Linked DNA regions of Homo sapiens: region 2 is reported to be linked to region 1. The links are microRNA targets in miRTarBase. Many come from high-throughput screens and were not tested one by one. Region 1 holds a microRNA gene; the other region holds the end of a gene's coding sequence.

Region 1 (3,248 bases):
GACGTCAGCAGGGGAACACTGAAAGATCTGAATGATATGGGTAGGGTACCAAGAATGTGAGCTACACACCTCTATTCATAACAGAATTTTGAGCTCCAATCAAGGCATGGATATATTCTTATTTATAAATTACATAGAAATAATTTTTCCATGATTATGTATATCATAGTACATACACAAAAAACCTCTTTTAGAGAATGATATAACAGTAATTGAGAACGGAGTTTCTAATACTTTCTTCCTGCAAGCCAGTAGATTGTCCTGTACAGCCCGGGGAGTGTGGGCACCCCCAAAGTGGAAACGAGTGCCCTGGGAAAGGAAAAATTCCATTTCCAAGATCCAGGCATGTGAGAATTACGTGAAATTAAATATGTGGACTTGCGGTTTTTGGTTCTTGGAAAAATAGAAAGGTATAGTGGGTTGCATGCAGTTCTAGCTGCATTCCAGCTAGAAACAGATTGAGACAGTTCAGATTCACAGGCACTTGCAGGGCAAGTTTTCAATGTCACTGTGGCTTTACCACGTAGGCAAATTTGAAAATAGACACACTAAATATTGACTACAGGAAAAGAAAAATGTGTATTTATTCATACAAAACACATTTATTTAGCATCTATAATGTGCTGTGCCCTGACCTATAGTGACCCAAACAGATTAGCAGATCTCACCCGATCTTGTAGTGCAGTGATTTGAATAGCAATGATCTTTGGACCCTAAGCAACCCAGTTTGGCCATTCCCTGATGTCATTTTTTTCCCCCATTTCCATTGTTATTTTTTGAGAACATACAGACGCTTTTTGATCCATTTGTTGTAAGAACCTAGCCTCTTGATCAGTTGCATTTACAAAATAACAACATTGATAATTTCATAAATGTGTAAGATTTACAGCTTACAAAGAACTTGCACACACATCTCATGCATAACTCACAAAACCTCTTAATTCTTTCCCAATAATACAGGGGAATCATGGACTCAGGGGCTGACCTCCAAAGACGCTGTTGGTGGTAAATTGTTAGAGCCCCGAGATGTGACTTAAATTTAGGTTTTCTGACAGAGGTGTGCTGCTCGTCTCTATGCTAATCCATTACACAGCCAGACAGGAAGAACTGTCAGTAGATTCTGATCAATTTCTCTTTCTATAAAAAAAAATGATAAGCTTAGTTAAATTGTATTAGATAAGTGAAGGGTTGTTTATAACAGTCCAGCCTCCCCTTAGCTTCTTCTATGGCTTTCATTAGGCTCCATCAAAGCCTACTCTCAAAACAAAATATAAAAATAATTGTTAACTACTAACATTGATTCTGTGATCTTCCTTTTAAACTCATCTATCTATCTATCGATCTATCTATCCATCCATCCATCCATCCATCCATCCATCCATCCATCCATCTATCCACCTAGCTATCCTTCTATGTTTGCAGTCAGTTGCTAGTTATTAAGATAATCAGAATTGCTTTCAGAATTAATAATTGGTATAAATTTCAGAAGAGTTTGAATTTAGGTGGCAAATTCATAATAAGTGAGAAGGTAAGCTATAGCATCCTCTGATAATGTGTGCAGTTTACTTTTTATCTGTCTCTTTCTAATTGAAAACTAACAAATATAGCCCCAATTAAATGCACGTAAAAATTAGAAGCTGGTGGGATAGGGTATTAAACACAATCCTAGATGACTCTTATGAACTCATACCATAAGCAGCCACTTTCTTTCTCGAGCAAACTATAGTGAGAATGAAGCATCTTAGATTGAGAAGGGATTAGGACGACCCTGAATGGAATGGGCAAATCATAAACAGCTAGGCCCTTAGAATTTGGTTGCAGTCCCAAACCCAGGTCAGTTTTTAAACATGACTATCAGCTAGATATCCTTTCTCCACCATACAATAATAGATAACAACCTTAATAAGACGTGTAGACATTAAACTTTGAAATTCCACAGTAAGATGTAAATATTTGCTCAATCAAGTACAATTTAATATGTTTGTTATACAGCAACTGCAGAGCACAGAATTTTGTACTCTTTGGATGTTTATGATAAGGTACACATTATTTGCAAGTTTTTGCTTGTTTCCTTGTTCAGTTTTTCATTATCAAACAAACAAAGCTTCTCAGCCTGGGATTAACCTGGAGTCTGGAAAGTATACATTATGGCCAGCAACTTTAAACAATAGGCCAGAGATGGGAAATGAATGAATGAAATTCTGACACAGAAGACAAACAACAGAAACTCATTTGGGCTAGTGTAGGTGTAGGTTTTTTATTCTTCAACCAACGGTGGTGAAGAGGATCTCCCTTCACTTTATGGAGGCCTTGCTGGTTTGGAAAGTTCATTGTTCGACACCATGGATCTCCAGGTGGGTCAAGTTTAGAGATGCACCAACCTGGAGGACTCCATGCTGTTGAGCTGTTCACAAGCAGCGGACACTTCCAACTCCATCTTCCCAAGAACTAAATGGGTGTCTTCTATAGTGTATGTGCAAATCTCCTTCAAAAGGAAGTCTTACTCTTCCTGCTTTCAAAAATGGGAACAAAATTCACACCTCAGCATCCAAGTATTTGTTATTTTTGTGGATATTGTTAGAGCTGGTGTCACAATGTAAACTACTAGGATGAAAATAAGTATTAAAAGATTTCTCTTTTAAAAAGCTGATTAGAAATGATAGAAGTATAAGTAAAATATTTGTTTGTGAATTTTAATTATGTACAGAATGAATTTTAGTAACAGGCAAATCTAGCATTTAAGACTGCAATTTTCTAAAATTTAAATTTATTGGATTTCTAAAGTTGGTGTATCAGCATATTATTCTTAAATAATACGCCTTCTGTTTTACAATATTTCTCATTTTTATTTATATCTTTAATTGGCTAAATGTTTTATAATGTTAATTAATAATGCTGAAACAGTCATTCTTGTGATGTTTTAATAACTCTACTAGTGTTTTAACAGTAATATGGCCTTGGGGTTTGGTTTAAAGTAGGTGTTGTACATGATATTAAGGAGATGACCTTTATCAAATGTTTTATTTTTCTTGTATTGGAATTATCATATATATATATTTTCTTATTCAGACTATGTGAAGTGACATGTTATTTGTTTTCCTGATACTAATACATTTCTAAATCCAATGGCTTTAATTGTCATGATATGTTACTCTTTTAATGTACTATTGAATTCCATTTGCTACCATTTTACTAAAGCATTTTGCATCTACATTTGCAAGTGAAACTGAGTTAAAAGTTTGTTTTTT
Region 2 (3,000 bases), not on the chromosome of region 1:
CATTGATTACAAAACGAGTCTCAATTCCACACATGTCACAGTGTGAAAAGGATGCATCCTAACATTCATGAAATATTGGATACCAGTAGGCTGGACTTGGTCTGTGGCAGCCTTGCGCAGTTTCCAACCTGCACAACTGTACACAACAGCTCTTATGAAGCTTCCCAGAACACTGAAGAGCTTAGGGGCCACCACGAGGCTCACACTTGGGGCACATCTATGAACTCCCAAGTCCCTTAAGAAGTAATCCCTCTTTGATCTTCATCTGAACCAGGAAGGCCACAAAGAGGAAACTATGGGCCAGTTTCCTCCCATGGGGCACCAGTTCACTGAGAGTGGTCCTAGGGCCCCTGGGATGGTGGTTCGGCAGGCATGGGGTAGGGCTTCATGAGGGATTCTGAGTCCTGCCAGACTAGGAGAGGCCTCACATTTATAAGACCCAGAGAGGTGAGGGCCCTGGCCCAACATCACACAGCCGGGCAGAACAGAGCTGGGCTGAGGGCTCGGCACTCCTCACTCTAATCCCTGGTGCTTCTTCTCTTGCTGACTGTAAAAATGTCTGCTTTTCTGCCCCAGGTGAACTGGAGATAGGGGTCTCCGGGGCTGAAAGGGGTCTTGCCCCCAGCCCTGCCCCACTCCTTCCCCTCCGAAGCCCTGATTGCTGCACTTGTCCCCAGAGAAATCACCCATATTGATTCACAAGACTTTTAAATTTTATTAGTAAAATACAAAATGGCACAGACGTTGGTGATGAGGGTTGGAAAAGTCTTTCCAAAGTCTTCCTACTCTTTCCAAAGTCTTCCTAGATCATCCTTGTCCATGTCCTGCTTGGAGAAACTAACAAAGTCCATGGAAGGGGGACCAACTGGCCCCAGCGGCTTCCTCACAAAGGAGGCAGGGCCCCATCACAGGGTGTCCCACCCCTGGAAGGCTCTCCCAGCCTGGAAGAGCCAGAACAAAGTGCATTGGGCCCACTCCCACCCTCTCTGAGCTGCCAGAGTGACCCCACCTGAGCCAGGCCCTGAGCTTCCTGAATATGCTGCGCCACACCCAGCAGGGGAGTGCAGAGGCCAGGTGGGCAGGGCAGCACAGCGTCTTGCTCTCTATGGACCAGAGCTGGGTTTCCTTCCTCCAAGCACCCATCTGTGAAGGAGTGTTCCTAGCACCTGGGTAGAACCCAGCCCATAAGAGGCCCCTCAGGTAGACGGCAAGGGTCGGGGACAATCCAAGGGAGAGGTGAGCTGCCACCAGGGACCCTGAGGGGCCAGGCCAGCCGGTGCAGCCCCATCCAGGCATGCTCGAGCCTTCAGCAGCCAAAAAAGGGAACCCCTGACTTTATGCCTACAACTTCCCCTTTCCCATGTCCCAGCCCCCTTCCCGGGTAGCGTCCCTTTCAGAAACAAACAGGGGACTCATGGAAAACATCATGGAAATCCCTGGTCCTGTCTGCGGTGGGGACAAAGGTGAAGGAGAAGGTCTTGGAGGGCAGAGAACAGTGTTTTCAAGGAGTGAGAGAGGTGGGAAGGGAGCCCAGCCTCAGGAAAGAATCTGGCGTGTGTGGGGTGGGACCACAAGGGTCTTGTGGCCTGGCTGCCTGCAGGAGTCTCTGAAGAAGCATCAGGAATGTGGCTGCTCCTGGAGCCTTTCCTGGGCTTCTTGGACATGTGTCTGGAGCCCTCCCTCCCTCTTAGCGGGTGATGGGAGGCAGAGCCCGGGCTGTCTCAGTGACTAAGCCTGGGCGGGGCCTTCAGGGATGGTCTCTGCTCTGCCCATTTCCATTTGGGGGCCCACAGGGCAGGGTCTGTGCTATCAACTCACTCCCTTGCAGGCCCTCTGGGCCTCAGGGTCCAAAGACAAGTTAGTCCATTGGCAGGGACTGTCTAAGGTGCTCTGCTGGTAAGGACTGTGAGGCTGCATCCAGGGGCTGGAGAGAAGGGCCTCAGGTCAATGAGTGTTGTCAGGGGGACAGGTATTCCTTACCTCCCTCTTTCCTTTCACAGATGGGAGTATGTTGGTGGCTTGATGGTGGAACTAGGATCAGAACCCAGCCTTCAGACTCAGCACAGTGTAGACCAAAGAGGAAAGTCACCAGATACCCTTATCTCCCCTTCCCACAATGCCTAACCAAGGGCAGAGCCTCACTGGAAGCAGTGCCAGGAAACACCACACTAGCCTCATGCAAGAAAAGACATGTCACCAGTGGGGGCGTGGGCTCTGTACAGAGGATGGGGCTGGGGGAGATAGCACCGCAGGTGGCCGGGGTGACTGGCAACTGCAGCAGGACCAAGAGACACAATCAGGTTGCAGGGAGTGGGCAGAGGGCCTGGCCTGATGCTCATGTGTGAGATGGGAGGACTGTAGTACTCACAGGGCAGCATGGGTCAGAAGGGGCTGGGCATTTAATAAATAATTGTTCATTGGGGCTGGGATGGCGTCAAAGGGAACCTCTAACCAGCCAGCAGCAGAGGAGAGTTTTGGGGCTGGGGTGAGTTGGGAGGCCACCCCCTCTGTCCCTGGCAGGTGGAGAATGGTCAAGGCTGGCCTCCTGGGGAATGCCTGGGAGCTTGGAGCTTGTGCACCTGGAGGATCCCACCTCCCCCCTCCAATCATCCCAGCTCAGGCCAGGCCCTTGGGTGGGGGTGGGTATGAGGATGAGGGATCCCAGGCAGCTGTCTGAATCAAACAACTAGACACAGGCCAGAGGAGTTCACACGGGCACCAGGACATATGAATTACTACCACAGCTCCGGGGGATGTAGCGAAGGCCCTCCGCCATCTCTCCTGCCATCTTTCGAGGGCAGCCCTGGAGGCTCTGGTAGGTGAACATGGCCACCCCCAGGCAGAAGAGGAGGCCAAGGAAGGCCAGCAGCCCCACCGCCTGCCTCCGGGTGGCAGCCTGGGCGTCAGGGACAGGAGTGATAAGGACGCCCAGCCTCTGGGGGTCCATGGTGGCATGGATGGGTTCCTCAGCCTTAGGGGTCCAGCTGCCTGAAGCCACTG

The links. Region 1 holds the annotated microRNA hsa-miR-490-5p (CCAUGGAUCUCCAGGUGGGU, at 2,341-2,360, shown strand). A microRNA usually pairs through its seed, bases 2 to 8, with sites in the 3' UTR of a target mRNA and lowers its output. Matches are read on the target gene's strand: a 7mer-m8 pairs with bases 2 to 8, a 7mer-A1 pairs with bases 2 to 7 and ends in A, and an 8mer does both.
Region 2: the mRNA of CX3CL1 is a reported target of hsa-miR-490-5p. Seed matches in the 3' UTR shown: 7mer-A1 at 1,425-1,431 and 7mer-A1 at 1,413-1,419.

The regions. Positions count from the first base shown.
Region 1 is chr7:136,900,865-136,904,112 of GRCh38, forward strand. It overlaps MIR490 (microRNA 490), which reads left to right and starts at 2,303; the gene lies at 2,303-2,430. The region is part of intron 2 of CHRM2 (cholinergic receptor muscarinic 2); the gene reads left to right. LOC349160 (a long non-coding RNA gene) reads right to left here. Exons shown (of 4, transcript NR_046103.1): 3 at 986-1,137.
Region 2 is chr16:57,382,740-57,385,739 of GRCh38, reverse strand. CX3CL1 (C-X3-C motif chemokine ligand 1) reads right to left here. Exons shown (of 3, transcript NM_002996.6): 3 at 696-3,000. The coding sequence ends at 2,708. Among named protein-coding and RNA genes, the nearest start is that of CX3CL1, 12 kb to the right of the region's middle. RefSeq lists enhancers at 1,069-1,228, 648-1,337, 1,338-2,028.